Regions from separate parts of the Homo sapiens genome. Here regions 2, 3 and 4 are each linked to region 1. Evidence: fine-mapped expression QTL. A gene starts in region 1. Each other region holds a variant in brackets. All regions are shown on one strand. Distances are from middle to middle. Region 1 holds the start of PACS1 (phosphofurin acidic cluster sorting protein 1). Region 2 overlaps PACS1 (phosphofurin acidic cluster sorting protein 1). Region 3 holds the start of LOC124902833 (small nucleolar RNA U13). Region 4 holds the start of CATSPER1 (cation channel sperm associated 1).

What was found. PIP is the estimated chance that this variant, and not a neighbour inherited with it, causes the effect.
Region 2: its variant is fine-mapped to the expression of PACS1 in whole blood (INTERVAL, PIP above 0.99).
Region 3: its variant is fine-mapped to the expression of PACS1 in lung (TOPMed, PIP 0.98).
Region 4: its variant is fine-mapped to the expression of PACS1 in whole blood (TOPMed, PIP 0.95).

What each region holds. Positions count from the first base shown.
Region 1 is chr11:66,066,750-66,074,851 of GRCh38, forward strand. It overlaps PACS1 (phosphofurin acidic cluster sorting protein 1), which reads left to right and starts at 3,523. Exons shown (of 24, transcript NM_018026.4): 1 at 3,523-4,093. The coding sequence starts at 3,738. SF3B2 (splicing factor 3b subunit 2) reads left to right here. Exons shown (of 22, transcript NM_006842.3): 20 at 1,197-1,296; 21 at 1,399-1,584; 22 at 1,925-2,559. The coding sequence ends at 1,996. RefSeq lists an enhancer at 1,376-1,535 and silencers at 1,626-1,675, 3,083-3,702, 3,713-3,762, 3,913-4,042, 4,053-4,202 and 1 more.
Region 2 is chr11:66,219,622-66,227,723 of GRCh38, forward strand. PACS1 (phosphofurin acidic cluster sorting protein 1) reads left to right here. Exons shown (of 24, transcript NM_018026.4): 8 at 125-184; 9 at 1,010-1,170; 10 at 1,533-1,626; 11 at 7,883-7,963. Among named protein-coding and RNA genes, the nearest start is that of KLC2, 34 kb to the right of the region's middle. RefSeq lists enhancers at 2,949-3,048, 3,109-3,348, 3,154-3,654, 3,655-4,155. The variant CAAAAAAAAAAAA/C (reference allele first, on the strand shown) is at 4,574.
Region 3 is chr11:66,145,668-66,153,769 of GRCh38, forward strand. The region is part of intron 1 of PACS1 (phosphofurin acidic cluster sorting protein 1); the gene reads left to right. LOC124902833 (small nucleolar RNA U13) reads left to right here and starts at 6,954; the gene lies at 6,954-7,058. The variant G/A (reference allele first, on the strand shown) is at 4,334.
Region 4 is chr11:66,020,848-66,028,949 of GRCh38, forward strand. It overlaps CATSPER1 (cation channel sperm associated 1), which reads right to left and starts at 5,632. Exons shown (of 12, transcript NM_053054.4): 1 at 4,317-5,632; 2 at 2,002-2,214; 3 at 919-1,032; 4 at 649-796; 5 at 247-338; 6 at 1-107. The coding sequence starts at 5,532. RefSeq lists an enhancer at 1,803-2,304. The variant G/T (reference allele first, on the strand shown) is at 4,248.

The DNA of each region.
Region 1 (8,102 bases):
CTTTTGGGTGCTTCTTTCCCTGTCCTTGGTAGGCATGTGCTGCTTAGTACTCCCCTGCATACTTGAGGACCTTCTGTAGGTCTCGAGTTCTCTCTCTGCTCTTTTCTCCAGTACTCTATCCTGTGAACTCTAGCTGCCTTGATCTCCCTGGACTTTCAGTTTCATCCTCCCAACTCACGGAGTCCTCAGGGCTCTCCATGAGTCTCCCCTCTGTTCTGTGGCCTGCAAACTCTCAGGTGTGGTATGCTGGGGCAGTTGAAGGGCTCATCACATTTGTTTCCTGTCTCGCAGGAATCACTGTGCTTTGTTGCCCCATGTGTAGTGTCTTGAAAACCACTGTTTCATATATTTTGCCCATTTTTTTTGGTTGTTTCAGGCAGGAGGGTGTATCTGGTTCCTCTTGCTCCTTGTCAGGAAGCAGAAGTCTCAAGCTTTGCATATTCAAGGAAGAAAAATAAAGAAGGGTACTGTGGACAGAGTATAGTGAGGAGGGCTTGGGTAAGGGACCAGGCTATGAACCCTTTAGGTCATGGTAAGGAGTTTGGATTTTATTCAGATAATGATCAGAAGCCTCAGAGGGTTTTGAGCAAAGGTCTGACAGGACCCGACATCCGTTTTAAGGTATTTTCTCTGGCTCCTGTGTGGACAATAGATTGTCACCTCTTCCAGCGGGAGAGGTGGAGATGATGGGCATAGTCTGGGGTGATAGTGGTAGATTTGCTCTTGTTCCTAGTGTAATCCTTGAAATTAGTGGTGAAACTGGCTGTGGATGGCTCTTGCGTTGGAAGGCCTGGAAGTGTGAATTACATACATGAGAACTCCAGGCATGACATTCTTCGGGTGGGAACTGTTGTCGCCTGCTCTATCTTGCCAGCTTCTCTGTACCAAAGTTCTTTTGGAAACTTTGAGCCTCTCTGACCTTTTGACCCTTATGTGCATGTGGGAGTCCTGGTCTGTGATCCCTTGACTTGATTCAGGGGGCCCCTTAGCTCCATCTGTGTTCCCTGGAGTCAGCACTGTGCCACCCCCCCGCCCAATTCTTTTCTGTCATGGGCAGAACTGCAGAGGCTGCATCCTTGGGGAGCTCAGAAGCTCTCCAAGGCGCTGAGTGGAGGTGCCACCTGTATCTTTTGTTTCCGCTTCTGGAGACCCTTTTGTCCCTTGCTTTTTGGGCCTGATCCCATTGTCCTTCGCAGAAGTGAGACACCTCAGCTCTTCACTGTGTTGCCAGAGAAGAGAACAGCCACTGTTGGAGGGGCCATGATGGGATCAACCCACATTTATGACATGTCCACGGTGAGTACTTGGAGGATACTGCTTTTGGAGGCTGAGAAAGGCAGCAGAAGCTAGGGCTTCTCTGACTCTTTGGAGATGACCAGGCCCTGATCTCCTTTCCAGGTTATGAGCCGGAAGGGCCCGGCTCCTGAGCTGCAAGGTGTGGAAGTGGCGCTGGCGCCTGAAGAGTTGGAGCTGGATCCTATGGCCATGACCCAGAAGTATGAGGAGCATGTGCGGGAGCAGCAGGCTCAAGTAGAGAAGGAGGACTTCAGTGACATGGTGGCTGAGCACGCTGCCAAACAGAAGGTAGGCGCTTCCAGGGGCGCTGGGCTGGGTGAGAGCCAGGGACCCTGGCCTGCCGTTTTCAGTGGCATGGTGCCCTCTAGTGGTGAGAGTGAGGGTGGCCTCTGCTTGCTGCTCTGTGCTTCCTTAGATTTGGAAGTCTTAGAAATCCTCCAGTGGGCTGCCCTCTTTAAGGACGATGAGGGGGAGGAACTCAGCCAAGTCTGAGAGGGAGCTCGAAGAGAATTCAGATTCAGCGCCTTTCCCACAGACTTCTATGTCTATGTCAGGCTGCCCACCCTTGTTTTGGGGGTCCGGGGGTGGTTCAACCTGTCTTAACCTGTGTCTCTTTCTCCCTATACAGCAAAAAAAACGGAAAGCTCAGCCCCAGGACAGCCGTGGGGGCAGCAAGAAATATAAGGAGTTCAAGTTTTAGGTCCCCTCACACTAGCCCTTTTTTTGGCCCTACGTCTGGATGCCTGGGCTTCACACAAGAACCACCTCTCCCGCAGTTCCCAAGGACTTGTCATTTCATGTTCTTATTTTAGACCTGTTTTGTAAATAAAGCTGTTTCCCAAGGAAAGAGATGAATATTTAACACTCCTGAGCCTCCCTCATCTCCTTTTAGCCCCTTCTTGCAAAAGGACTAAAATAGTCTCTTTCTACAATCACTGGGCTGCCCCAGTAACCACGAACATAAACTGGGATTAGACGGCGCATTTGACTGGTGGTGACGCCAACCCCAGGCTGAAATCTGTGTTTCACCACTGCCCTGCTTTGTAGGAAGGCTTGGGGGAAGTACCTCTAGGTCTGGTTTGACCTTACTACTTTGTCCTTGGGGAGTAAAAATAGCCAGATTAGCGCCCTAGCGCGGCAGAGGAAGTAACAGTGGGCTTGGGAAGTAGGCCAGGGCAGGCCTTCCCAACTGACCTTGTGACCAGAAGTTCAAGTCCTTACCTGTGCGACAACATAGCTCAAAAGCTAAATTGTCTTGAGTCCATATGAACCCTTGGGTTCAAGCAACACTAGTCGCTGGGGTTTGGGATTTGTATGTGGGATGGGGGGACTTACTTTCTCCAGGTTGTAATCTGGTCCTGAGCAGCCTTTCTGACAGACTAGAGCAGGCTGGATCACTGGCTCCCATGGGCATTTGCCAGCCTGTGGGGAGGGTAGTCATGCGCTGCTGTTGTACTACTGTTGGTGTTTAAGTGCACCAGTGGAGGCGCTCACTTGCCGGAGGGTTCAAGATGGTCTCGGGGTTGTGGGGGGCATGATCCAGATAGGACGTGGCAGCTGAGCTAGGCCTTAGGAGGAATGGAATTTTAGAAATTTGGTAAGCAACAAAGCACTGGCACTCTAAAGAGGCATTTGGGGGGTAGGGAAAGAAGAGGAAGGTTGGCTCCAGATGGGCCCCGGGGTAGCTTGAGAATTCACTTATGCGAAGAACCTTCTGGACTCCAGGTCCCTGAGCCCCCGCTTGCCCTCGGGGCGGGAACTTCCCGGATCACAGGCACCCGCGGTGGCAGCGGGCCCCGGGTCTCCGCCGACCTCTCTGTTTGCCGGGGCCGCAGGGCAGGGCTAGGTCGGCAGGCGGAGAGCCGGCTTCCCCGGGCAGACCCCCACCGCTGGGGGCGGGTTCCGCATTGGCTCCGAAGACCCGAGGGGCCGAGGCGCGCTCCCGCGGCGGCCCCCTCCCTGCAGGGACCGAATCCCGGAAAAGCCGGGTTTCCGCTGGCGGGGCCGCGGCCGGCCGTGGGCGGGGAGGGGAGGAGCGGGGGCAGACTGGCAGCGGATTTGAGGGCAGGACCCGTGGGCGCGCGCTGGCCACAGACCACCCCTTCTACTCCGCGGGAGCGAGGGGCGCGCGTGGCTGCACGCAGGGCGCGAGCGCGCCCGGCCCGGCCCCTCCGCGCTGGGTGGGGCCGCGCGGGCCGGGCTCCCCGCCCCCTCCCGGACACGCCCACCCGTGTCGGCCTCGCGAGCCGCAACAGGCAGCGGCGGTCGAGCGCGAGGCCCGCGCGCCCAGAGGCCCCGCGCGTGCGTGCAGCTCGCTGGCTGCTCGCGCTCGGGCAGGCGGGCTGAGGAGGCTGCCGCGCCCCCGCCGCCGCCGCCGCGGGGGAAGCCTGGGAGCCAGATCGGCGTCGCCTCGGCCTCCGTAACCCCCGCCTAGCCGGGCCATGGCGGAACGCGGAGGGGCGGGCGGTGGTCCCGGAGGCGCCGGGGGCGGCAGCGGCCAGCGGGGATCCGGGGTCGCCCAGTCCCCTCAGCAGCCGCCGCCGCAGCAGCAGCAGCAGCAGCCGCCGCAGCAGCCGACGCCCCCCAAGCTGGCCCAGGCCACCTCGTCGTCCTCGTCCACCTCGGCGGCGGCTGCCTCCTCCTCGTCCTCGTCTACCTCCACCTCCATGGCCGTGGCGGTGGCCTCGGGCTCCGCGCCTCCCGGTGGCCCGGGGCCAGGCCGCACCCCCGCCCCGGTGCAGATGAACCTGTACGCCACCTGGGAGGTGGACCGGAGCTCGTCCAGCTGCGTGCCTAGGTGAGCGCGGGAGGGTGCGGCGGGGCGCCGGGGGAGCGGGGTGGCCGCCGGGGCCCAGCCCTCCCCGCCCCAGCGCCCATGGGGTCCCCGCCCTCCATCTCCCCGACTGTCCCGCGGCCCGGCCTGGCTCCAGCCAGGCCTCCCGGGACTCCTGCCACGGGGACCCGCCCTCTCCTGGCAGCCCCACCTTCTGCCTGGGGCCGGGACCACCCTTCTGTCCTCCCCGAGGGACCTTCTGGCCTCGGCCCCGGGCTTTCTCCGATTGGGCTGACCGAATCCGGCCTTCCTGGCAGTCAGTTTCCCTGAGTAAGTCACTCTCCTGCCTCGCCGGCGCCGGGAGCTGTACATACATGGATGTGGTATAGATCTCTTGATATTATTATTTCCCAATAGACTCAGCATGTGCCAAACTCGATTGTCACCTCTTGCAGGTAAAGCTCATATAATCACCCTAGGGGCTTCTCATTAGCCTTCGGCACACATGTTCATTTGAACTTCATATTACACACGTTCTGTCCCAAGCGCTAGGCTCTTAGTTTTGGGGCCCTATTTAATGTGTCCTCAAGTGTATTTTTACCTCCCCTCCCCCACTAAAACTGGTCCCAGAATCTCCCAGCTCTGCAGGGCTGTATGAAATTACTGCCTTGTTCCTAAATTCAATCCATTGCTCTCTGTCTGTTGGAACCATCTGGGGACTTTCCTTCCATTGGCAAAATAGGCCTGAGTTTGGGAATATTTTCTGTTTTTGTATTGGCAAGGCAGTCTGTCTCCAACTCTGGGGACAGGGTGCTGTGTCTTACAGTTTGCCACTTGAATAAGACGGTGTGTGGAGCTGGTTTCACCCAGAAAGCCCAGAGAAGTGCCTGGAGGTGTTCTTTTTTGTCACCTTGTAGCTGAGTTGATTCTGTTGCCTTGAAGTCTTGGGCTGTCTCCTCACTGTTGGTTAGGCAGACGGATGTGTAAGTCAGAGTTAGAGAGGATTGCTGGGCTCCCCCCTCGACTGTCTTCCTTTCCCCACCTTTATTCTGGATAATATTGTTTTATATATATATCCCAGATAGGAATGATGAGAGTACATCTTTCTGTTTCGCTCAGCTTAAGGAACAGAGCATTATCGCTTCTGTTGAAGCTCTCAGGGTGCCCCTTCCTGACTGTCTCCCCTCTTCCTTCTACAAAGGTAAACACTATTTTGAATTGTGTTTATCATTTCCCTTGTTAGAAAAAAATTAGTTTTACTACATAATGCATCTCTATATATTTTATAGTTCTGAATGTTCTTGAAGTTTGTGTACATGGTGTCATCCTGTATGTGTTCTGTGACTTGATTGGTTTTTTTATTTTTTTTTAAATCAGCATTAGGTTTGTGAGAATCATCCATGTGGTATGGTAGCCATAGTTTAAATATTTTCATGATGGGTAGTATTCTGTTGTGTGAATGAATATACCGTAATTCTCTTGAATATGTAGGTTGTTTCCTGTTTAACACCCACAGTAATGCACACATTTCCCCCCAGGACTCCTAGTGCTCTTGTGCAGAAGTTTCTTTAGGTTGTATTCATATGGAGGGGTGGGATTGCCGCTCGCAGGGTATAGATCTGGGACTTCACTAGGCAAAAGTAGATTGTTTCCACAGGCTGCTTCCACTCTGTGTTTCCACATCACTTAACAGATTTACACATTGTTTTTTTTTTCTCTGTCCTTTCTCTAGGGAAATCAGGAGCCACATTAATTTAGTTTGCTGTGGCCAGATCCATAGCACAACACCAAGCTCAAGCGAGAGTTGAGTATGTGATGGTGTTCCTCTCTTGATCCTAAGCAGGCCTCTCTCTTTCTATACAGGCCCATCTATCGCTGAAGTATCCTAACCCACCTCTTTCACACATAGAAACACTGTGTTCCTTCCTACGTGGGTCCAGTCTTTCCCATTTCTCCTTCACTTTCATGCCTGTGTTTGGTGACGTTTGGGCAGCTGCCTTCTCCATCTCGTTAGGTTGAAAAGGCGCGAGCCTACTGGCAAGGAGCTGCAGCAGAGGGGCGTGAATGAAATCATTGACTGCTGTTGATGTTTGGTCTGCCCCTAGGTCTTTTGGTCACTGCAAAGTCCACGTAATAAATTATTAGCCTAAGAAACAGCCAGGCATCCTGATCAAATGTATAATTATTATGCTAACTTGCTGTGAGAGGCTTAGGCGGACTTATTTTTACATTCCGGGAGTGTGCAGTTACGTCACGTTTACTGACCAGTCCTTGAGCTTGTCCACTGTCCTGCTCCGACATTGTTTTTCATCCATCACCCTTGTACCTCCTCACTCCTTGTGGAACACATGTGCTCTTTGAGCATTTTGCAGGCCAGAATAACACTCTGTGGGGAGAAAATGGCCTGCCATTGGTCTTTCCAATTATTAGAGTCATCTGGTTAATTTGAGGTCTCCTGGGTGTCCTTGTTCATGTTGTTTAGAATATATAGGCAACATGCAGCACTCTGTGGAGGGATTAACATTCTTGTCTCATGTAACTCAAACGGGACACAAATATATGAGATACATGCCCCTTAGAAATGTAAACATGATTGTGGATCTAAGGTTAGGTGTGCATAAGAATGTCATGGGATTTGGTCTCTTAGGGCAGAGAAGAGGGGCTCGAACAGTACAGTGTTAGGAAGGTCCTGCTGCTTTTCTTGATGCCTGTCAAAATATAATTTTCTTTTGAAAAAAATACCGTTTCCTGTATTAGATATTTAAATAAAGAGCAGTGTAGTTGTTCTTCAGGTAGGTGTCTGCTCTTATTTAACATCTGTTAAATTCCCCCAGAATACATAGTACTTTTGAAAAACTTTATATAGGTGAATAGCTTACTCACAGCTGGTTTTAAAAGAATGAAATTGTTCTGTTGATCACATTTTTCACCAGCATTTTTTGTTTTTTTTCTTTAGATGGAGTCTTGCTCTGTCATCCAGGCTACAGTGTAGTGGCACAGTCATAGCTCACTGCAGCCTCCAACTCCTGGGCTCAGCAATCCTCCAGCCTCAGCCTCCCAAGTAGCTGGGACTATAGGCATGTGACATCACACCTGGCTTTTTTTTTTTTTTTTTTTTTTTTTTTAAAAACAGGGTCTCACTATGTTGCCCAGGCTGGTCTTGAACTCCTTGCTTCAAACTGTCCTCCTACCTCGGACTCCCAAAGTGCTGAGATTACAGGTGTGAGCCACTGTGCCCAGCCTTTTACCAGCATTTTTTTTAAAGACAAAATGATTAATATATGTCCATGATTAGAAATTTGAGCAGTATGGAAAGATGGAAAGCACAAAGGAAAAAGCCCCCAGTCCATCCCTCTTCTCACTTCCCAGAGGTAATCACTGTGAAATACAGTTGGCTTTTAAGATTCTGTTACAAAAAGGTAGTTTTGCTATAGTTCCTTTATCTTTTATGAAATTCAAGCTTTAGAAGTTAGCATTGTTTTCCCTTCATGCTAAGTAGTACTTCCTCTACTATGGTCCAGTATGGCATGGACCGTGGTGCAGGGTTATGGGGACCAGGTGGCATGCTGCTTGATGTTAAAGGAAGGGTGTTAGAGCCTCATTGTTGATCCCTTCCCTTCTGCCTTTGTATGGTGAGGTTTCCCTGATGTTCTTTTCTTTTTGTGTTGCTGTAAGTAGGAGAGGCAGAAAAATTACTAAATTTTACAAGCATTCAAAATTTCCTCAGTGGCATAAAAGTGATTATTAAGAGATGAAATGTGCTCTGCTGTATCATTCGCAAACCATATCCAAAGCCCATTTGCATACCCTTATGTGTATGTGAACTTAGGGTAGGAGTTGGCAGTTATCAGTCACTTTTCTCCTTAGGTCACATTTTTTTTAAGTGGGTGCTGAGGTCAAGCCTTAATGGACAAAAGCGTTGGAATCACAGAAGGTGGCCATAGCTGAGTTGGCATGACTGGTCTGCAGCAGAAGTGTTACTTTCATGAAAACGCTTGGGGGCATTTGCCCCTTTAACCACAGAAGCACTATA
Region 2 (8,102 bases), 150 kb after region 1:
AAGTCCTCCAGTCTTCGTGTCTTCCCACAGCTCGTCATGAAAGTGGGCTCTGGTGGGTGTTTATTGACTTGAATTGACCCCAAGTGGACGTTGCTGAGAACTGTCATGCGATTTGTCCCTACAGCAACCTAACATCAAACAGAAGTTTGTGGCCCTCCTGAAGCGGTTTAAAGTTTCAGATGAGGTATGGCCTCTTACTCCCAAGGTTAATGGTGAGTAGAATTCCCCGGGTTTCACCCAGCATCCCTGGAGTACACTCTGTATTGCCACTGAGAGTCAGGATTCTAGGATTAATATTCCTGCTCCCCGTGGCATACCTGGTAGAGCCCTAAGGGAGAGGGTGGCTAAGAAGGACTTAAGCAAGCAGAGGAGAGAGAGGCTATGCACACAACGCAGGGCAGCACAGCTACGCCCGACCCTTGGTGATGCGCAAGCCTCTGGCATGCGATACAGGGACAGACCCAGCGGATGCTGCTGCGGTTGTCACTTAATTTCCCCTCTTATCCCACGGGAACATCAGTGAGCAGCAGCTTGTGAGGTGGAAATGTCCTTGTTGGTCAGCCCTGGAATAACCAGGAATGGGGCTGCTGAGAGAGAAGCAGTCTTTTCCCTGGGCTCCGGGAGGGGCCCGTTTCCACAGGCCTCTCAGTGGGCTAACAGAGGGATAAAGATGAAAATTGTTGAGAGCGATTGCTTCGCCTTCCTGTGAGCTGTAAGGAGGGTAGGAAGAACCCACATGGGCGATGGGCCTCGGGATTCCTCAGCTGTCCCTCCTGGCACAGCTTCACAGTGTGGAGCGGTGGCAGGAACTGGGGGGAAGGTGGCCTCACCATGTCCCCGCCCTCAGGCTGGATCATGGAAATGACGTGAAGGTTACTCCAGCCAGTGTGAAGCTCTGGCATGTCCCTTAAGCAGGACTATAAGGGCAGCCCAGGAGAAAGGAGCTGCTCATCAACCAAAATTGTTAATAGGGATGACCCTAAATTCAGAGACTCCTTTTTCCCTGCAGGTGGGCTTTGGGCTGGAGCATGTGTCCCGCGAGCAGATCCGGGAAGTGGAAGAGGACTTGGATGAATTGTATGACAGTCTGGAGATGTACAACCCCAGCGACAGTGGCCCTGAGATGGAGGAGACAGAAAGCATCCTCAGCACGCCAAAGCCCAAGCTCAAGTGAGCCCCCCTCTCTGTAGCTGGCCTCCAGACTCTCCTTCCTGGCCATAGCAGTCTCCTGACCCCTCCCTCGCTGTCCCCTCTATTACCAGAGAATCTTGGTCCTTCATCCTTTCTGAACCTCTGGCTGTCTTGGAGAAGGTCACTGTTTTGCCTCTCACTGACAGAAGTCCTATAGGACTCTCAGGAAGTACCCCCTCTCCTGACCCGCCCCTCCTCTTCACCCTGCACTTCCCTGCTCACCGGGCGTTCTGGACACCTGTAGCTTGTTGACCCACCCTGAATGCCAGCTCCATTCAACTCTCCCAGCATGCTGTTCTGAGCCCTGGCAGCACTGACCCTGGCTGTGCTCTTCACCACAGGCCTTTCTTTGAGGGGATGTCGCAGTCCAGCTCCCAGACGGAGATTGGCAGCCTCAACAGCAAAGGCAGCCTCGGAAAAGACACCACCAGCCCTGTGAGCGCAACCGCGACTGCGGGGCGGGGTGGGACCGTGGCATGTCAGGGCTCGACGCTCTGGCCCTCTGCATCTCTGATCAGGGCTCATGTTGTGACCTTAGAAAAGTGGCCCCATTGGCTGGGCATGGTGGATCACAACTGTAATCCTGGCACTTTGGGAGGTGGAGTCGGGCAGATCATGAGGTCAAGAGATTGAGAGCATTCTGGCCAACATGGTGACACCCCATCTCTACTAAAAATACAAAAATTACCTGGGCGTGATGGTGTGCACCTGTAGTCCCAGCTACTCAGGAGGATGAGGCAGGAGAATCACTTGAAGCCGGGAGGCGGAGGTTGCAGTGAGCCAAGATTGAGCCACTGCACTCCAGCCTGGCGACAGAGCGAGATTCCCTCAAAAAAAAAAAAAAAAGAAAAGAAAAAAGAAAATGGCCTCATCTTGTTTCAGCCTCAGTTTTCCTCCCCTCAGTCTGGCTGGGAGCTTAGCTCTTTGGGGTCATTGCTGTGTCAGGCTGGGTTGTTCCTTTTGGTCTGTTTCTGCCATGGCCCAGCGCCTTCCCTCTCAGAATACATACAATCTCCCCCTCTGCTGGGCGTGGTGACTCATGTCTATAATCCCAGCTCTTTGGGAGGCCAGGGCGGGTGGATCACTTGAGCCTAGGAGTTCGAAACCAGCCTGAGCAACATGGTGAAAGCCCATCTCTACGAAAAATGCAAAAGTTAGCCAGGCATGGTGGTGCACGTCTGTAGACCCAGCTACTTGGGAGGCTGAGGCAGGAGGATCCCTTGAGCCCAGGAGGCAGAAGCTGCAGTGAGCTGTGATCGCACCACTGCTCTCCAGCCTAGGTGACAGAACAAGACCTTATCTCAACAAACAAAAACCTCTCCCTTCGTGTCTGTTCTGTGGTAGCTGAGAGTGTGGCATGGAGTGGGCGTTTGGCCAGTAGTGAGTGGCCCTGCACCAGACTGGGGAAGGAGCAGGTATGGAGAGGAGGGGAGCCACTGAGACGTGCTCAGGAGGCCCTAGTAGGCTTTATTGGGCCAAGAATCCATAGAGGGGAGCAGTGCCCCGAGAAAATTTATAATTTAGTCAAGAGGTTTCCATTTTTTCTGGTGAGCAAGGGGAAAAGGGGGCATGTACTGTAGCAGCCGGAGCCACGACCTGGGCCTTGCTCCGCCCCTCCTAGAAAGGCCCTGCTCCCTCAGCAGATCACAGGCAGGGGTGGGTGTGAGCCTGAAGTGACCTCAGGCCCTAGGAAGCTGCTCTTCCTTCGTTTACAATGGAAGGCAAGTGAGTGTTGTCGCGATGTGAGTGCCCAGCTTAGGATTTGCCCTCCAAAGCCCAGTGTCTTTTCTGTAGATCAAAGAAACAAATCCTTTAAGTCCTCCTGTTCACCTGCTTTACTGGCAGATGAAGCCTACTCATGGTTCACCAGGGGGAATACCAAACTCGCCCTGCAGATCGGTAGTAATTGTGCGGAGATGATAGGAAACAGGAGAGGCCTCTACCGCTGAAAAGCACGGGTCTGAAAGGGCAGGTGCCTGTCCTGGAAACCACCTTCTCTTGGGGCATCCCCTGGCTGCCCTTCTGCCTGTTGCCACCAGGTGGGGCTCTCTCCCAGCTCACCGTTCTTCCTGCTTAGGACAGCGCCCCACGTGACGTTAGTGAGGCAATGCATGGGAAACTGCAGCCCAAACAGACTCCTCCCTGGGAGAAACCCCAGCCCTGCCCCTGCAGACCCTGCACCCTAGACGCCGTTCCAGGCCGGGTTCATGGGGATCCAAGAACTGAGGAGACCTCGATTTACAAAAAAAAAAAAAAAAAAAAAAAACTCTTTCTAAATTTATTTTTTATTTTTATTGGAGTCGGAGTTTTGCTCTTATCGCCCAGGCAGGAGTGCAATGGAGCGATCTCGGCTCACTGCAACTTTCACCTCCCGGGTGCCAGCGATTCTCCTGCCTCAGCCTCCCGAGTAGCTGGGACTGCAGGCACGTGCCACCCACACCCGGCTAATTTTTGTATTTTTAGTAGAGATGGGGTTTCTCCATGTTGGCCAGGCTGGTCTCAAACTCCTGACCTCAGGTGATCCGCCCGCCTCAGCTTCCCAAAGTGCTGGGATTAGAGGCTTGAGCCGCTGTGCCCGGCCTATTTTTTTTTTTTTGAGATAGGGTCTCGCTGTACTCCCCAGGCTGGAGTGCAGTGTGTACCCAGCCACCTCACTTTCTTTGGTATTAGTGTTTAGGATGTGGCTTGGAGATGCATTTCCTCACATGGAACTGCTGAATGGCCCTGCTGAATTGACAGCATCCACATGGGCAAACCCTACTGGGCAAACCCTACCCCTGGCCATGAGAGCTAAATTCCCTCTTAACTATATGGGATGACTCTAGAAAGATACCTGGGAGCTGGCTGAGGGAGGACTCTTTCTTAGTGTTCTAGGAATGTAGAGCAAGTGCCCTAATATAACAAAATGTAACTAAATCACTAACTGAGACAGTGCCCCAAAAGCAGTAAGCAGAACACCTAACACTGTGGATGTTCAATAAATGTTAGTTACCTGACTTATAAAACTTACAGAAAAAATTACTTAGACACTCTGAGCCTCGGTGCCTCATCTGTAGGGTTGTGGTGTCGGTATAGGAGCCCATTTGGCTCAAAAGCCAGTTGAGGGCGGACACGGTGGCTCAAACCTGTAATCCCAGCACTTTGGGAGGCCGAGGTGGGTGGACCACTTGAGGTCAGGAGTTCGAGACCAGCCTGGCCAACATGGCAAAACCCTGTTTCTACTAAAAATACAAAATTAGCCAGGCATGGTGATGCACACCTGTAATCCCAGCTACTCGCGTGGCTGAGGCAGAGAATTGCTTGAACCTGGGAAGCAGAGGTTGCATTGAGCCAAGATCCCGCCACTGCACTCCAGCCTGGGTAACAGAGCAAGACTCCATCT[CAAAAAAAAAAAA/C]AAAAAAAAAGCCAGGTGAGTGTCAGCCTTTATAATATGATGGCCTAAGGGCCTCTGTCAGGGCAAAAACACATTTGGGACAGGGTAGAGCTTCTGAGTTTGAGTCTTGACTCCACCACTCCACTGACTGTGTGATCTTGGGCATGTTACCACGCCTTTGCTTCCTCATCTACAAGGTACGTGTTAAAGCTCGTGCCTCCCAAGGTAGTGAGGAGATGGAACAGGATCATGCACATCAGACTGCTGCGTGGGGTGTGCCTGATTGACTTACTGCACACAGAGCACTGCTCATTGCTCACCGACTACTATTGCTTTTATTATTATAATTCCTTAGTGCCATTTCAGTTGTGGACTCCTAAAATTGATAGAATCTAGATGTCTTTTTAGTGAGTCCTTCAAATTCTGGTTCCCTTGGCCACGTTTCAGACTCACTTTGCTGGTTCTGTGCTGATATTTCTATTTTGAAGAGCCCCATATGTCTGGATGTGGGTGTGAAACTTTGGAATCCTTTGGTATGAAAGGCGCTTTGGGAACAGCAGAACCAGACTGCGCTCTTAAATGGAGAACTTCTGAATGGATTAGGAAAAACCACGAGATTGTGCACCTGTAGGCAGGTGTGCACGCACCACCTCAACTTGTGTCCTCTCTTCCCTGGTTTCCTAGCACTGTTATTTATTTATTTTTCTTAATCTTGCTTTTTGTTCCCCACATTTTAGAGGATTCAGTTTATCGCTAGAACCAGAAAGAATTTCTCCTGATACGAATTATTCCAGTTGTTGAATTTTCCCAAGGCTTGAGCACACAATGGCAACATAATTTGGTTCTCCAAGCTGATAACAATGAGCCCTGACAGTGCGTCAGGGCAGCCACAGATGCAGACTTCCAGCCAGGACTGCCTGCTGCTAAGTCGCTATTTCCACAGCACTATAAATAATGGCATTAGAGCCTAGTCCTTCATGAAATGATAGCCTACACATTACCCACTCTTGCCCCCTTCTCTCTGACACGGGCCTACACTCTTACCCTTCAGCAGCTGACATTGTCCATGAGCACAGTGGTGCAGACTTCTGGGACCTCTAGTGATACCTCATCCATATCCCATGCCAAACACTTGGTCAGACACAGCTGGAGTCCTGCTGGTGTTCCAACATCTTTTGGGGGAAAAAGCCCTTTAGTGTTTATAGAAGCAGGAACAGAAATGTGATGAAATTGGGAATTTGTCCCCAGGAGGATTGTCTGGGACATCTGGAAGAGCCAGTAAATAGCCAGCAGGTGTCCTCTAAGCCCAATCCAAGTTAAAGATATTATCAGGAGATGGATATGCTAATTACCTTGATTTAATCATTTCACAGTGTATCCATACATCAAAACATGTTGTATACTGTAAATATATACAATTTTTATTTGTCAATTATAGCTTAATAAAGCTGGGAGGAATAAAGATCTTAATAAATGTTGCAGCTTTGACATGGAAGCAATGCTGTAGCTGTCATAGGGCTTAACAACAAGGCGTGCTACTTCAAAACCTCCCAGCAGACCTGTGTTATCACCCAGTTCATTCTCTTTAAAACGCGTTTAATTAATTTGTCATATTGAGATCGAAAATGGAGTGAAATTATCTCTAGTCTCAGGTCTAACCAGAGCTTTTCCATGATTCTAGATTCTATTAATGTTGGCCGAGGCTGGGCGTGGTGGCTCACACCTGTAATCCCAGCACTTTGGGAGGCTGAGGCAGGTGGATCACTTGAGGTCAGGAGTTCAAGACCAGCCTGGTCAATCAACATGGTAAAAGCTGTCTCTACCAAAAATACAAAAATTAGGCAGGCATGGTGGCAGACGCTTGTAATCCTAGCTAATCAGGAAGCTGAGGCAGGAAAATCACTTGAACCCGGGAGGCAGAGGTTGCAGTGAGCCAAGATTGCACCACTACACCCCAGCCTGGGCAATAGAGTGAGATTCAGTCTCAAAAAAACAACAGCAACAACAACATTGGCTGATCATATAGAGAAGGTGTAAATGAGCTAGCTCTGCAATCTGGAAGCAACCTGTTCTGTGGCTGTGAGCCATTACACAAGCCAAACCATCTGAAGATCTGGGGTCCCAGAGTCTGGCTCAGGCATGCTGAGTTAGTCCTGCAAATGGCCTGGAGCAGGGGTTCTCAACTGGGGATGATTTTGCCTCCCAGACATATGGCAATGATTGGAGACATTTTTGTTTGTCACAAATGAGGGAGTGGAGAGTTGCCACTACCAGCACCTAGTGAGTAGAGGCCAGGGATGCTGCCAGACATCCCACAGTACACAGGACAGGCCCCCACAATAAGAATGAGCCAGCCCCAAATGTCAATCGTGCCAAGGTGGAGGAACCCTGGTTTAGAGTGTGACATAGGGAGCCTGCTGTGGTGATCCTTGTTCCATAGTTTACTAGGTGACCCTGAACTTACTAGCCTGATGCTTCTCAGTATTATATGATTGACTCAGAGAAAGGACTTTGAGTCATTGGGAGGAAGTGGGATATCATTTATATTTTTCTGCCTCCTATGGTTCCCTACAAGAAACAAAAAGATTCACTAAAGCCAGTACCTTCCCTGCATCTAAGACCTACAACCCACACGTCACTGCTGGTGACTTTGAGTTGCTGTCTGCACAGCAAGAAGCAATATTAACAAATACGAAAATCTGGTTATGTGTCTATATTTGCAAAGGAAATTTTTAATATTTATGAGAAATGCTAATAAGAGTTGGGGACAAATGGAGAATTAATTTACACCTAAATGGCTTAACATTGGGTGTCTTTCTGCTTAGTATATCCTGTTAGAGGGTTTTCTGGATGTTCCCACCAAGCAAAAAGCATTTGGCTACCATGGATGTCTTTAGTCTCAAAATCAAAGACCTGAACCTAGCATACTCCTTTCTCTGGCAAGCAAAGGAGGCCTCCCCTCTATGTCCTTCCTGGGCAAGTGTATTCACTGGATCCAGGGTCAAAGACTTCATGGATGCAATAGCAAAGCCATCTAAATTTTGAGCTTCTCTTGCCTAGTGACACCTCGTGGAGTCAGAATTTCTGGGTTCTGAATCTCCGTGTTATTGACTTGATGACAAAGATAACTGATCCCTCCAAAACCTGGTTTTCACAGAAATGTACCCGCCTCCCCGGCCCACATAAGAAAAAAGCCCTGAAGATTTTATGAGGTTTGAGATTAAATGAAAGTATTTTAAGCTTCATAGGGACCTAGTAAAACAAATTAAAGTGGTAGTTATTTGGATCAGTGATAACTAATTCTTATAATTTTTGCAGATGGAATTGGCTGCTCTAGAAAAAATTAAATCTACTTGGATTAAAAACCAAGATGACAGCTTGACTGAAACAGACACTCTGGTATGTATGGGTCAGTTTCCTGTTTCAGCTGTTTCAAATAGTGTTTGTCCCTTTAGAAATAACGGCAGAAGGACCCTCAGGACCACCATAGAAATTTCACCTAAATCTGCAGGCTTATGAATGTCCTGCACTCTCTTTC
Region 3 (8,102 bases), 79 kb after region 1:
ATGAAGGAAATGTGACAGGGCTGATCCGAAAGGAAAAGTGGGATAGACCTGAAAACTGCTTGAACTTTTGCTCCCTAACCCTGCACAGACCCATGGGCAGAGGTTGGAAGCCTAGTAGGCTCAAGAGATGCAAACACAACCTGTAACCAATCATTGCCTGATCACTAAGCTGTGTGTCAGCAAGTCAGGCTTAAAAATAAAAACAAGAATTTGAAAAGAAAAACTGGAAAAAAGAAGAAAAGAAACTGAGTAGAGACATCAAATAGCCACACATCACAGGGGAGACAGATTTTGTAGATTTAGTCAGGGCAAATTACTAAAGAAATAACACACGTGAAAAATTACAGTTGAGAGTTGCTACAATATATTATCTAAAACATCTAGTTTTTTAAAATTATGATTATGTCTGTAATTTATTATGGTTATGTCTGTAAGGAATGGCTACAGAAAACAAACAGAAAAACAAACACTAATGGGACAAAAAAAACAGGAAAGGGTGGTTCATATTCAGGGAAGATAATCAGTCAATAGAAACTGTCTCTGAGAGAGCCTAGATGTTAGGTTTAGTAAACAAAGACTTCAACACAGCTATTATACATGTGTTCAGGAAATACAGGAAACTATGCATGTCATGTTTAAATATTTAAAGAAATGTATGATGACAGTGACTCAATAAATCTCAATAAAACAGAAACTGTAAAAAAGAACCAAATGCAAATTCTGGAGATGAAAAATACAGTAACTAAAATTAAAAATTCACTACAGGAATTCAACAGCAGATTTGAGACACAGAAGAAAGAATCAGTGAACTTAAAGATAGATCAATAGAAACTGCCAATCTGAAGAACCTGAGAGAAAAAAATGAACAGAGCCTCAGAGATCTGTGGGACAACATCAGGCATACCAACACACATGTCACAGACTCCTACAAGGAAAGGAGAAGAAAGGGCAGAAAAAAAATGTATGAAGTAACAGCCAGAAACTTCCTACATTTGATGAAAATCATGAATCTATGAAAACTTCAAATCGGATAAATATTAAGGGATCCACACCTAGGCATATCCTGGTCAAATAATTGACAGGCAAAGACAAAAAGAGGCTGGGTGTAGTGGCTCACGCCTGTAACCCCAGCACCCCAGCACTTTGGGAGGCTGAGGTGGGCAGATCACTTGAGGTCAGGAGTTCGAGACCAGCCTGGCCAACATGGTGAAACCCCCGTCTCTACTAAAAAATACAAAAATTAGCTAGGCATGATGGCACATGCCTGTAATCCCAGCTACTCAGGAGGCTGAGGCAGGAGAATCGCTTGAACCTGGAAAGTGGAGCTTGCAGTGAGCCGACATCATGCCTGCCACTGCACTCCAGCTTGGGCGACCAAGTAAGACACTGTCTAAAAACAGACAAAGACAAAAAGAATAAGAATGTCTTGAAAGCAGCAAGAAAAAGATAACTCCTCAAGTTTTTTATTGTAACAGTATGAATGTTTGCTGACTTCTCAGCAGAAACAGTGTAGGGTAGAAGGCAATGGAATGACATATTCAAAGTACTGAAAGAAAAAACGAAACAAAACAAAATTTTTATATCTAGCAAAAGTATTCTTCAAAAATGAAGGCAAAATAAAGACATTCCTAGATAAACAAAGACTAGGAATTGCTTGCTACGAGATCTACCTGAAAGAAGTTTTTTTGACTGAGAGGAAAATTCTACCAATGGACAGTAATTTAGATCCACAAGACTAAAGGAAGAACACCAAAATTGCCAAATATTTGGGTAAATGTAAGATAATATATAAAAATAGCTGAGGCTTAAAGTAGTAAAGAACATTCTCCTGGTAAGAGGAAAATGATAACAATGGAAACTTGAGTCAATTTAAAGGAATAAAGAATGCTAAAAATAGTAAGTATGTAGGTAAACATAAGAAATTTTCTAATGTTGTAATTTTTCTAAATGGTAATTGACAGTAAAAAGCAAAAATAATAACAATGTATTATGGAGTTAAAACATGTAGAATAGAGAGTAAAGGGGTGATTCCTGGAGGCTGGGAAGGTTAGGGGGTAGTGGGAGGGAAGTGGGTTAGTTAATTGGTACAAAAAGAAAGAATGAATAAGAGCTAGTATTTGCTAGCACAACAGTGTGACTGTAATCAGAAATAATTGTGATATAAAAATAACTAATTATTGTCTGTGACACAAATGATAAATGCTTAAGATGATGGATACCCCATTTACCCTGATGTGATTATTAGGTATTGCATGCCTATATCAAAGCATCTCAAATAACCTATAAATATATACACCTTCTATATACCCACAAAAATTAAAAATAAATTTTTAAAATTTAGAAATGAAATATACGGCCATAATAACAAAAGACATAAGGAAAAAAAAATACCTGAGACTCTCTTGTAGTTTGTTGAGTGTAATTGGCATAATCCTTTTGAAAGCTAGTTGGGCAGTAGCCATTAAAAATGTACTTTTTAAAAATTAATTATTATTATTATTTTTTGAGACAGAGTCTCACTCTATTGCCCAGGCTAGAGTGCAGTGGTGTGATCACAGCTTACTGCAGCCTTGACCTCCTGGGCTCAAGTGATCCTCTCAGCTTAGCTTCCCAGGTAGCTGGGACTACAGGCACACACCAGCATGCCTGGCTAATTTTTGTATTTTTTATAGAGATGGGTGTCTCGTGAGGCTGTACTCACACTCCAGGCCTCAAATGATCCTCTTGCCTCGGCCTCCCAGAGTGCTGGCATTACAGGTGTGAGCACCATGCCTGGCCTGCCATTAAAAATTTAAATGTTTAGTCCTTTTGACTTAGCACTTTCAGTTTTAAGAACACATATCATAGAAACACTACAATAACTTTGTAATAACTAAGAACTATAAAAAAGTCAAATGCCCATCAGAAAGGGACTGATTAAGTAAGTAGTATATTTATTTTGACTAACTATTATAACCATTAAAAGGAATGAAGTCAGGCCGGGTGCGGTGGCTCACGCCTGTAATCTCAGCACTTTGGGAGGCCAAGGAGGGCGGATCACTTGAGGTCAGGAGTTCAAGACCAGCCTGGCCAACATGGTGAAACCCCTTCTCTACTAAAAATACAAAAATTAGCTGGGCATGTTGGCGTGCATCTGTTATCCCAGCTACTTGGGAGGCTGAGGTGTGAGAATTGCTTGAACCAGGGAGGTGGAGGTTGCAGTGAGCCGAGATTGCACCACTGCACTTCAGCCCAGGTGACAGAGTGAGGCTCCATCTCAAAACAAAACAAAACAAAAAAGAATGAAGTCACTATATATGTTTTAACATGGAAAGGTGTCCACTTAACAGCTGCTAAATGTGATGCATTTGGTCGAAAAGAGATTGAGCAGCACAGAAGTATATGCTCAAAGGTATGTGTGAGCATGTGCACATGCACACGCACTTTTTTTTTTTTTTTTTTTTTTGAGATAGAGTCTCCCTCTGTCACCCATTCTGGAGTGTAATGGTGTGATCTTGGCTCATTGCAACCTCTGCCTCCTGGATTCAAGCAAGTCTGCCTCAGCCTCCCGAGTAGCTGGGATTACAGGCGTGCGCCACCACACATGACTAATTTTTGTATTTTTAGTAGAGACAGGTTTTCACCACGTTGGTCAGGCTGGTCTCGAACCCCTGACCTCAGGTGATGCGCCTGCCTCGGCCTCCCAAAGTGCTGGGATTACAGGTGTGAGCCACCATCCCCAGCCAACACGCACTTTTTTTTCTTCAGCCTTTTAATAGTGATCTTCTCTGGCGATTTATAGGATTGTTCCACTTTATTATATATTTCCAAAATAAGAGGTTTTTTTCCTACTGTGTGTTTCTACTTTTTCTACTTTTCAAACTATTACTTTAAAAACAAATATTTTATAAACATACACATTTTAAAAAGTAGCTCATAGCATAACATTAACTTTGTATTTGAAATTGTGAGATGAAATCAAGTACCCGGTCTATAAACAGCACTTTCTACATCCATTCCACATCTTGTGTTCGTGTGTGTGTGTGTGTGTGTGTGTGTGTTTTACATGTCTGTTCAGTACATTATAAGATCTTTGGGGGGCAAAACTGATCTTTTTTTTGAGACGGAGTTTCGCTCTTGTTGCCCAGACTGGAGTGCAGTGGCATGATCTCGGCTCACTGCAACCTCTGCCTCCCAGGTTCAAGCAATTCTCCTGCCTCAGCCTCCTGAGTAGCTGGGATTACAGGCATGCACCACCACACCTGGCTAATTTTGTATTTTTAGTAGAGATGGGGTTTCTCCATGTTAGTCAGGCTGGTCTCGAACTTGCCACCTCAGGCGATCCACCCGTCTC[G/A]GCCTCCCAAAGTGCTGGGATTACAGGCTTGAGCCACCACGCTCGGCCAAAACTGATCTTATTCATATTTGTTCAATTTCTCCCCCACATCCCCTCTCTCTATTCCTATCATATAGTGCTTTGCACATAACAGACCATCTGTGAATATTTATACTTTATTAAAGACATATAAAATAGTAATTATTCTCTACAGCAATTGGAATCCAATACAGTAATCTATATACAGTTATTTGATCCACTGACATACGTTCTTTCTCTTTCTCCCAAAAATAACCATTGAGACTAACAAAACCAAAACAAAACCGAAACAAAGAGCTCTAGCTTTTCCCATCTTCTCCAGTTACTAAATGTAGAACAGACTGGGTTTTGCTGACTTCTAGGCAGGAAACAGATTCTATTTCTAGGAACAGAATTCCTATATCTAACTGAGCTATTCTTTTTCTTTTATGTTGTTTCCTTTTCACTAAAATAGAAAAAAAAAAGAAACATTTTAAGCCTTTCTACCTTTGCTATATGACTTTATCACATGCAACATTTGGAATATTTGATCTAATAAATTTCTAAAGACAATTAGGACTTTGCCACTGAAGTGTTATTGTTCATTACTTGAAAACGTGTTACTTTTAAATGTTTTGTTTATAGCACTATGCCTTTAAAAGTAAGGTGTTATATTTAAAAATCCAAAAAGTAAATTACTTTCTGTTGGATTAGAGGAAATTTCCATTAAGGGAGATTGAAGTGGTTGCATAAACCCTCCTACAGATAACAATTGAAAGATCTGGGTAAAATATAAGAAACAACTAAAAGCATCCAAAAGCTGTCCCTAGAACCTGAGGAGAATTGACTCCTGAAACACTATAATAGAAGGAGCAAGAATTGCAAGTTTGTGACTTTTTTGCCAGAGGTTATGCATCAGTACCCATGGTGGTTTCAGTAGAAAGAAATGATAGTGGAAAGCTGCAGCCTTACAGATGAGAGGTGCCAAAGAAGAGAAGTCAGGGATGGAAGACAAGCTGGAAAGTTCAGGGGGGAATCCTGGAAACAAGAGAGGACTACAGAAAGGGGGAGGCCCCACATCTGAGTGAAAACTGCCCAAATTCCTGGTTGACTATTAAACTCTAAATGTATAGTGAAATCCCAGGGAGCCCAGCAAGACAAAAACAAAAATAAAAACCAGCCAACCAATGAAACAAAGCAAGCAGGCAGAGGCTAGAGAGGAATCTACCCTTAAAAGACAGACCTATACTAGATGAGATCTGTGAGGTTCATGCTTTTTAAAACAGTATATCCCTAAACTGTGAGCAGCGAAGCAGTGGAAAGCTGAAGCCTTACTGGCTTGGGGTTCAGAGGAAAGACCCTAATATTGCCCAAGCAGCTGAAAACTTAGGAGGAAATCACAAGAACACAAAAGTCACAGAGTGTGAGCCCCTAAATCTGAGTATGATCAGCCTAAATCCCTGGCTGTCTGCCAGATTACACAGAAGCATGGGAGACCCCAGGGAGCTAGGCTAGACGTTGTAAGAGCTGAGCAGAGATAGCAGCTGCTTCATACGACAGGAGAGACAGTTCGCAGTTTGAATCCAGGCAAGTTAACTGCCTACTAGAATATAAAAAGAGAAAGTTCTCAGAAGAACACAGTAGAATCCAGAGTTGCTATAACATCTTATCTACAATGCCAAGTTTTCAATCTACAATTACTAGACATGTAAATAAAATGGAAAGTCTAACTCATACTCAGGAAGAAAAGCAGTCAGTAGAGACTGACTCTGAGCATCTAAGTGGGTACAGTGTTGGATTTTGCAGGCAGACTGCAAAGCCACTGTGCTATGATCAAAGAATTAAAGGAAAAATAAGTGAACAGATAGAGAAATTGTAACAAAGAAATGGAAAGTGAAAAAATGGAAGTTGTAGAGCTCAAATAAGTAATAGCTGAAATAAAAACTCACTGGAGGCCGGGTGCAGTGGCTTACACCTATAATCCCACAACTTTGGGAGGTCAAGGCAGCAGGATCACTTGAGCTCAGGAGTTTGAGACCAGCCCGGGCAACATAGTGAGACCCCACCTCTACAAAGCAATTTTAAAATGAGCCAGGCATGATGGTATGTGCCTGTAGTGCCAGCTACTTGGGAGGCTGAGGTGGGAGGATCGTTTGAGCCCAAGAGATCGAGGCTGCAGTGAGCTGTGATCGTGCCACTGCACTCCAGCCTGGCTGACAACATGTCTCAAAAGAAAAAAAAAGTTCACTAGATGTGCTCAACAGCAGTTTTGAAATGACAGAGAAAAGAATCTGTGCCGTTGAAGATAGATCAATAGAAATTATCCCATCCAATGAAGAGAGGAGCAAAGATTGAAGAAAAGTGAGTAGAGCCTCAGAGACTTGTAGGACGATATCAGGTAGCCTAACATAAGTGTACTTGGAGTCTTAGAAAGGGAAGAGAAAAATAGGCAAAAAACAATATTTGAAGAAATAATATCCCCAAACTTCTTAAATATGGTAGAAAACACTATAGATTCAAGAAGTTCAGTGGAGTCTGAGCACAAAGGAAAAGCACTCATAGGCATATCATAGTCAAATTGCTGAAACCAAAGATAAAAAGAAAATCTTAAAAGCAGATAGAGATCCTTTTGCAGCTCATGAGTGTGACGATTGGGTGTTCATGCATGTGTGTGAGGTGTGCCACCCTCTGAACCTTGTTACAACATCAGCACATTACGTCTCTGAACTTGCATGGGGAGGGGAAGCAGGTAGAGAAAAGTGACACATTACATAAAAGGGATCAGTGTTACAAATGTGACTGACTTTTCATCAGAAATGAAGGAGGCCAGAAGACACTGGAACAGTATAGTCAAATACTGAGAGAAAAACCCTGTCAACCAAGAATCCAGTATCCAGAGAAACACATTTTCAAAAATGAGGGCTAAAGACATTTTCAGAAAAACAAAAATTGAGAGAATTCATCACCAGCAGACTTCCACTAAAAGAAGTTTTCAGAATGAAGGGAAATGATACCAGGTGGTAACTCATCTACAGGAAGAAATAAAGGGCATTGGAAATAGTAAATATGTAGGTAAATATAAAAGACTATGATTTTTTTCCTTCTCTAATTTCTTTAAGATACATATGTGTTTTTTTTTGAGATGGGGGTCTCACTATGTTGCCCAGGCTTGAGTGTGTTGGCTATTCACAAGGACAATTATGGTGCACTATAGCCTTGAACTCCTGGGCTCAAGCTATCATCCTGCTTCAGCCTCCTGAGTAGCAGAGACTACAGGCATGTGCCACTGTGCCTGCTGGTGACATAAGAAACAAGATTTTAAAGATTTTATAACACTCTAGTGCTGGGTTTATAATGTACATATAGGTTGGTCACAGTGGCTCACACCTGTAATCTCAGCCCTTTGGGAGGCCAAGGTGGGAGGATTGCTTGAGCCCAGAAGTTTGAGGCCAGCTTGGGCAACATGGTGAGACCTTTTCTCTACCTAAAAAATAAAAAACCTGGCCAGGCGCGGTGGCTCACGCCTGTAATCCCAGCACTTTGGGAGGCTCAGGTGGGCGGATCACGAAATTGGGAGATCGAGACCATCCTGGCTAACACGGTGAAACCCCGTCTCTACCAAAAATACAAAAAAATTGCCCGGCATGGTGGTGGGCACCTGTAGTCCCAGCTACTCTGGGGGCTGAGGCAGGAGAATGGCGTGAACCCGGGAGACGGAGCTTGCAGTGAGCCGAGATGGTGCCACTGCACTCCAGCCTGGGTGACAGAGCGA
Region 4 (8,102 bases), 46 kb before region 1:
ATCCAGCGTGAGCAAGGTGAAGAGGGTGAAGATGGTGGTGAAGATGTTCTGGAAGCGCTTGGGGTCAGATTTGCGGAACAGTGCCCGGAGGACCGCGGAGAAGAGGACTGGCTGTTCAGGGCCAAACTCAGCTCTCCAGTGCTATCCCCACCCCAGCGCCCCTCGTCCTGCCCCATCCCTGCTCCCCGCACCCCTTTCACCGCAGCCCCTCAGGCCCCCACCCCAGCCCCTGCAGCACCAGGATACAGAGGCAGGTAAACATGAGGATGAGGATGGCTGCGATGGACGGCAAGGACTGGCCCAGGGTCCCTGTCACTTCCTGGACGCTGGTCAGGAAGCTGTGGGCAGAAGGAGTGGGGACTGAGTCATCGGTGAGGGGCGGGGGTGTGTGTCTCTGCCCAGCAGCCACAGCTGGCGCTGAAGGCAGGAGGCTCCTGACTTGTTGGTGACTTGGGTGAGTCCTGGCCCCTCTCTGGAAAAATGAAGGGGCTGATTCCAGTGCATGACAGAAGGCAGAAGCAGGCTGGGGTCAGCAGCCTCCTGCGCCCCCATCCCTTGAGCAGGTCACAGTGGATTTCTTTGGGGCCCTGGTCTGTGTCCCCTCTTCCTTTGGAGTCCCCACCCCAGGTGGGAGCCGTGGCCACTGACCTGAGCCTCCGCAGGACCCGGATTGCCCTCAGGGCCCGCAGGCTCTTGAAGACCTTGAGGATCCGGAAGAGGCTTTGGTGGTAGATGGCGAAGGAGTGGGTCTGCATCAGCAAGAAGTCCAGCACGGCCATGGCCATAATGAAGAAGTCTGAGGGCACGGGGTGCCTGAGCCTGGCGGGCTCCCAACGCCAGCGCCCCCTTCCCCATCCTTCTCTCGTCCCGAGCCTCCCCCAGACTAAACACACGCAGCCTGGCCCCGGCCGCACCCACCCAAATTGTTCCAGAAGTCAAAGAAGTACGAGAGGCCCAGGGCGATGATCTTGAGCAGGGCTTCCACCACGTAGATGCAGAAGAATATGGAGTCCAAGGCCATGAAGTACCACTCTGCAGGAACACAGGGGTGCACTCAGAGCTGTCCCCAGCACCCAGTGCCCTCTCTCTCCTCAGCATTAGCCTCACACAAGCCCAGATTCCCAGGCTCTCCCCGGCTCTGCGTAAGCAGCTGCGCGACTTCACTACTGCTGTGTCTCAGTTTTCTTGTCTTTAAAATGGGGATAATTGTGTCCAGGAGCAGTGGCTCACACCTGTAATCCCAGCACATTGGGAGGTTGAGGCGGGCGCATCACTGGAGGTCAGGAGTTCGAGACCAGCCTGGCCAACATGGTGAAACCCTGTTTCTACCAAAAATACAAAAATTAGCTGGGCATGGTGGTGGGCACCTGTAGTCCCAGCTACTTGGGAGGCTGAGGCAGGAGAATCACTTGAACCCGGGAGGCGGAGGTTGCAGTGAGATCGCGCCACTGCACTCCAGCCTGGGTGACAGAGCCAGACTCCGTCTAAAATAAAATAAAATAAAATGGGGATAATTGAAGTCCACTTGATAGAGTTGTGAGCGTTAAATGCATGAACACAAGCGAAGTGCTTAGAATGGAGCCTGAGACAGCGAGCCGGGCAGCTCCTGTCCTTCACCCTGCTCCACGGCGTTGGAGGGCCCAGCCTTCCCCGACCTTACATCCTCGCCCCTCCAGGGCCTTCTCGGGCTCCCGGCCCTTCCGCGAAGCTCGGGCTCCAGGCGCCCGCCCGCCCTCAGCCGCACATTTGGAGCAGATGCGCTCCCTAGTGGCTGCGGCGCGAACAGCACCGCCTCCCGCCTAGCGGGTCCTTCTGTCTCGGGCCGGCCTCAGCGGGGTCTTTCTGAGACGCTCTCTAATACTGGGTAAGGCCATCTACTTCCCAGGGGTGAGGATCAAGTGAGCTGAGTCCTATAAACCGCCCGGCACTGGATCAGGCCCACGGAGGTCCTGGAAGAGCATCGGTGGCTTCTCCATGGGAACAGGACTCCCTGGCTCTTACCGCCCCGGATCTCGACTTCAGCGAAGGTCTGGGCCACCAGCATGACGGTGTTGAGGCAGACAACGAAGAAGATGAAAGTTTCAAAGGCCAAGGATTGGGTCAGGTTCCGGATCATTTCCCGGAAGCCCTGAATGAGGAAGGTTAGCTTTTCCCACAGCCACTGGAAGAGATTGGTAGAGTGTCCCTTCTTGCGGGTCCGCTGGAGCCGGCCGGCTGAAAGGAACAGGGCCAGAAAGTCAAGTGTGTGCAAGAGGGGACACGAGGTCCCAGGCACCCCCCAGCCTGGCTCAGCGTCCATGGTCACTCCTGCCTGCTTGCTGGCCCTCTGCCTCCCGGGTTCAAGCAACTCTTGTGCCTCAGCCTCCCAAGTAGCTGGGACTGCAGGTGCCTGCCACCACGCCCGGCTAATTTTTGTATTTTTGGTAGAAACAGGGTTTCAACATGTTGGCCAGGCTGGTCTCGAACTCCTGGCCTCCAGGGCTTCCACCACGTAGATGCAGAAGAATATGGAGTCCAAGGCCATGAAGTACCACTCTGCAGGGACACAGGGGTGCGCTCAGGGCTGTCCCCAGCACCCAGTGCCCTCTCTCTCCTCAGCATGAGCCTCACACAAGCCCGGATTCCCAGGCTCTCTCCAGCTCTGGGTAAGCAGCTGCGCGACTTCACTACTGCTCTATGTCTCAGTTTTGTTGTCTTTAAAATGGGCATAATTGTGGCCAGAAGCAATGGCTCACACCTGTAATCCCAGCACTTTGGGAGGTTGAGGCAGGCGGATCACTGGAGGCCAGGAGTTTGAGACCAGCCTGGCCAGCAAATCCCCAACAGGCTGGTCCTGTGCCTTCTGTGGCAGGGGCCAGCCTGTTGGGGATTTGGAGTTGGCTTCTGGGGATCCTGAGGGCTCCCACTCCTATGCCTCCATGCCTTTCTTTGCTCACGTGGCAACTTACATATGGAAAACCCACCCTCCTCATCATCCCATCCTCTTGGTAAACTTATCCTCTCCCTTTCAGGTCCTGATGAAATGTTCCCTCCTCTGGGCTGCCTTTCCTGTCCCCATTTAATAACACACTTGCCCCTCTCTGCTTGTTCCTGAGACTGTTGTCATATTTTGTTTGTTGTTGTTGTTGTTTTCTGAGATGGAGTCTCGCTCTGTTGCCCAGGCTGGAGTGCAGTATCGTGATCTCGGCTCACTACAACCTCCGCCTCCCAGCTTCAAGAGATTCTCCTGCCTCACCCTCCTGTGTAGCCAGGATTACAGGCACGCACCACCACACCCGGCTAATTTTTGTATTTTTTTGGTAGAGACAGGGTTTTGCCATATTGGCCAGGCTGGTCTCCAACTCCTGACCTCAAGCAATCTACCTACCTTGGACTCCCAAAATGTTAGGATTACAGATGTGAGCCATCGCACCCAGCCTATTTGTTTTTTTTTTTTTTTTTTTTTTTTCCTACGGAGTCTTGCACTGTCACCCCGGCCGGAGTGCAGTGGCACGATCTCGGCTCACTGCAACCTCTGCCTCCTGGGTTCAAGCGATTCTCCTGCCTCAGCCTCCCAAGTAGCTGGGATTACAGGGGTGCACCACCACGCCCAGCTAATTTTTGTATTTTTTTGGTAAAGACGGGATCTCGCCATGTTGGCCAGGCTGGTCTTGAACTCCTGACCTCAAGCGATCCACCCACCTCGGCCTCCCAAAGTGCTGAGATTACAGGCGTGAGTCACCGCGCCTGGCCTGTTGTCATGTTTATTGAACTACTAGGAAGAAAGTTTGGTGGCGTATGAGCTAAAGGCCATGGTCCCTCCTTGCCCTCCAATAAGGCCCTCATTCAGGCATTAGTTCCTAATCTCTGTTCTCAAGCAGCTCACAGGTGAGTGGGAGAAATCTGGACAGATAGAATCCACCATGGTAAATGTTCTGAGGGCAGGCCCCGAGCACAGGATGATCTGTGGTCAGCTAAGTGACCACTCCTAGTTTTGGGCCCCTCGAGGGCAGCGACTGTGTTGAATTTTTCCCCATGCTGCCATGGCCCAGGCAGGCCACACACCCACATTGGATGAGTATCAATGTTTGACTGGTAGACATATGAATAAATAAGGCAGTGACTGAATGAACAAACACCTCATGGCCTAAAGAGGTACATAATTCAAGGAATAAAAGATGGGACCATGAACAGTCAGGAGAGTGAATAGCCAGTGGGGGACCTGTGCAGGAGGGTCGGGCCTTACGATCTGCGGAAGGACAGTGCGG[G/T]GCCGAGATCAGGTCTGGATCCTGCGCCAGGCAGCAGGAGTTGGCATGGGGGGCCCAGCAAAGACTCACTTTTGCGTTTCTGAAATTGCCCTTCTTCTTTGCCCCAGTCTTCTGAATGTTTGGTGGAGATATCCTGGGTATGGACTTTTTTGGACATCTGGGTGACACGTGAGCGGATTGTGCTGGAGGACCGAGTCATGCTGTGAGCCGAGCCCCGTGGGTGTGCTACGTGATAGGGGAAGACTCCTGTACGAGAAGCAGCAGGGCCGGGGGCATCGTGAATCAGGCTCCGGGATGTGTGTGGGATAGAGAGTTGGGAAGTGCTCTGGACGTAGTCGCCATGGAGGTAACTGGAATGATACGCGCCGTGGTGGTCTTGGTGCTGATGGTAGTCTCGGTGCCGGTGGGTCTGGTGGTAGTGGTGCTGTGTGTGGTGGGGATGGTCGCCATGGTGGTACTCACTGGGGTGGTGATCACCTTGGTGGTACTCGCTGTGATAGTCAGATATCCCACGCTGGTAGGACCCCACAGAGGAATGAGGGGAAATGGTCTCTCCGTGATGAGGAGACTTTCCATGCTGGTGGGCTTCATGATGACGGGACCTGCCATGGTGGTGGACTTGGTGATGGTGGGGCCAGCCACGGTGGGGGACTTGGTGATGCTGGGACTCATCGTGTTGGAGCCCGCTAAGGTGGGAAGCCTCGCTGTGGTGGAAGGACTCACTGTAGGGATTGGGTCCATGGGGGAGGTAGGACCCACCATGGTGGGAAGCCTCACCGTGGTGGGGCACGCCAGAGGAATAGTGGGATAAATTCTCACCGAGATATTGGGGTCTGCCATGGTGAGACCCCCTATGGTAATGGGAGTCACTCTGCTGATGGAACCCACCGTATTGGGACCCATCATGATGCCTCCTGCCATCACGTTGGAGCTCATCATGGTAGTCCTCACCGTAGGAACGGTGGGAGGGGACGGCGCCTTGAGAGGGAGCCAGACCAAAGCCTGTGGGGCCATGGGCTCTGCCGTGATTCCGTGCCTCGCTGTGGTGGTGAGATTGGTGGACATGGGAGGACAAGGCTTGGTCGTGGAAGTCTTGGAACTCCGGAGGGTGGTGAGATTCACCACGTTGGTGGGGCACGCCGTGATGGTGCAACTCGTAATGGTGGAGAGCTCTGCTGTGGCCTGGCCTGTGGTGTGGGGGTGATGAGTGAGAGCGAAAGAACCTATCTGCGTTATTGGTGTCTGCCTCATTCTGAGCCTTTTCAGGCACTGAGTTTTGATCCATGACTGTGCTGGGAACTCTGGAGCCAAAAGAGCTCAAGACCTGGGCCCAACAGGCCCCGCCTGGATTTCCCTTCTTTCCTGAGCCAAGCTCAATGCAGACTGTGGCACTGGGCTTCCAGAAAGGCCTGACTATTCTCGTGGAACTCTCCCCTCTATGATGTCACCAGCAGGCCAGGGCCTCATTCCCAAATGCCTCTTCCTGGGCTATAGTTCGGAATCAAGAATTATTGTGTCAAACTCCTTCATTGTAAATGAGGAAACCGAGGTCAAGAAAAGGGAAGGACTAGACCAAGGTGACCTCACAGGTCACTGGCAAAGCTGGACAAAGAAGTCCATGGGGGCGCCATGGCTTCATCAGCTACTTTAGCCCTGTTGTTGGAAAGAAAATGGTCCAAGTGGTCCAGTCTTCAGTCCCATCTAGAGATCAGCTGGCTCTGGGGTGAAGACTGCCTGACTCCCTCATAAGTAGGTGTGTGACCTTGGGCTTGTTGCTGAACTTTCCCGTGCCTCAGTTTCTTCCTCTGTAAAATGGGAATAATAATACCTAGCCCACAGGATCAAAAAAGTTAAGATATGTAAGCCTTATATTAACAGCATAATACATGGTTTTTGTTGTTGTTGTTGTTGTTTGTTTCTTTGTTTGTTTTTGAGATGGAGTCTCGCTCTGTCGCCCAGGCTGGAGTGCAGTGGCACGATCTTGACTCACTGCAACCTCCACCTCCCAGCTTCATGCCATTTTCCTGCCTCAGCCTCCCAAGTAGCTGGGACTACAGGCGCCCACCACCACGCCCGGCTAACTTTTTCTATTTTTAGTAGAGACGGGGTTTCACCATGTTAGCCAGAATGGTCTTGATCTCCTGACCTCGTGATCCGCCTGCCTTGCCCTTCCAAAGTGTTGGGATTACAGGTGTGAGCCACTGCGCCCAGCCCATGTTTTTTTGTTTTTGTTTTTGTTTTTTGAGACAGTCTCACTGTCACCCAGGCTGGAGTGCAGCGGCATGATCTCCACTCATGGCAATCTCTGCCTCCCAGGTTCAAGTGAGCCTCCTGCCTTAGCCCCCTGAGTAGCTGGGATTACAGCCACCCACCACCATACCCCACCCCGGCTAATTTTTTTTTTTTTTTTTTTGAGACAGAGTCTTACTCTGTCACTAGGCTGGAGTGCCGGGGTGCAATCTTGGCTCACTGCAATCTCTGCCTCCTGGGTTCAGGCAATTCTCCTGCCTCAGCTTTCCTAGTAGCTGCGACTACAGGTGCACACCACACCCAGCTAATTTTTGTATTTTTAGTAGAGACGGGGTTTCACCATGTTGACGAGGCTGCTCTTGAACTCCTGACCTCAAATGATCCACCCACCTCGCACTCCCTAAGTGCTGGGATTTCAGGTGTGAGCCACCATGCCTGGCCAATACATGTTAATTGGCATTATTATTCTCTTCTTGATCTTGGAACCCCCCTTTAGGGTTATTACCAAAATTAAACTATCAGCCATCATTTATTGAGGATTGCTTCATACACATTTTGTTTTCTTTCTTTCTTTTTTTTTTTTTGAGACACAGTCTTGCTCTGTCACCTAGGGTGGAGTGCAGTGGCATGGTCTCAGCTCACAGCAACCTCCACCTCCTGAATTCAAGCAATTCTCCTGCCTCAGTCTCCCAAGTAGCTGAAAGTACAGGCGTGCACCACTACGCCCAGCTAACTTCTTTTGTATTTTAGTAGAGATGGGGTTTCACCCTGTTGGTCAGGCTGGTCTCGAACTCCTGATCTCAAACGATCTGCCCGCCTCGACAACCCAAAGTGCTGGGATTACAGGCATGCGCCACCGTGCCCGGCCCATACACATTAAATTTAATCCTCACAATAGCCCCACATGGTAGATATTGTTTATCCCCATTTGACAGACAAAGGTGCTATGGCTCAGAGAATATAAATGAGTTGCTTGATGAATGAAAACTTACCGTCAGTGCTATCTCACTCCAAGTCTGTATCTGTAACCTTCATGCTGTCCTGTCTTCCTCCTGGAATCCACTGCAGAGCTTGCCCTGTATGCTGAATTCATATGTGCACAGCGCAGCTCTTCTGGAAGCTTATGGGTCTCAGCTTCTTGAGTGCTTGGTCAGAGCCATGTCCATAGTGGCTGCTGGGTTCCCAGTGATGAAAGAGACACGGCTCCTGTTTTAAGGAGCTCACTATCTGTTGCCAGCAGCAGACAAAGAAACAATTTGTGTGGGCTGGGCATGGTGGCTCACACCTGTAATCCCAGCACTTTGGGAGGCCAAGGCGGGTGGATCGCCTGAGCTCAGGAGTTTGAGACCAGCCTGGGCAACATGGTGAAACCCTGTCTCTACTAAAATACAAAAAATTAGCTGGATGTGGTGGTGTGCGCCTGTAGTCCCAGCTGCTTGGGAACTTGGGAGGCTGAGGCATGAGAATTGCTTGAGCCCAGGAGGCGGAGGTTGCAGTGAGCTGAGATCACACCATTCCAACAAGAGCGAAACTCCATCTCAAAAAAAAAAAAGAAAGAAAGAAAGAAAAAGAGAAGACTCTACCCTGAGAGAGAACAACAACCTC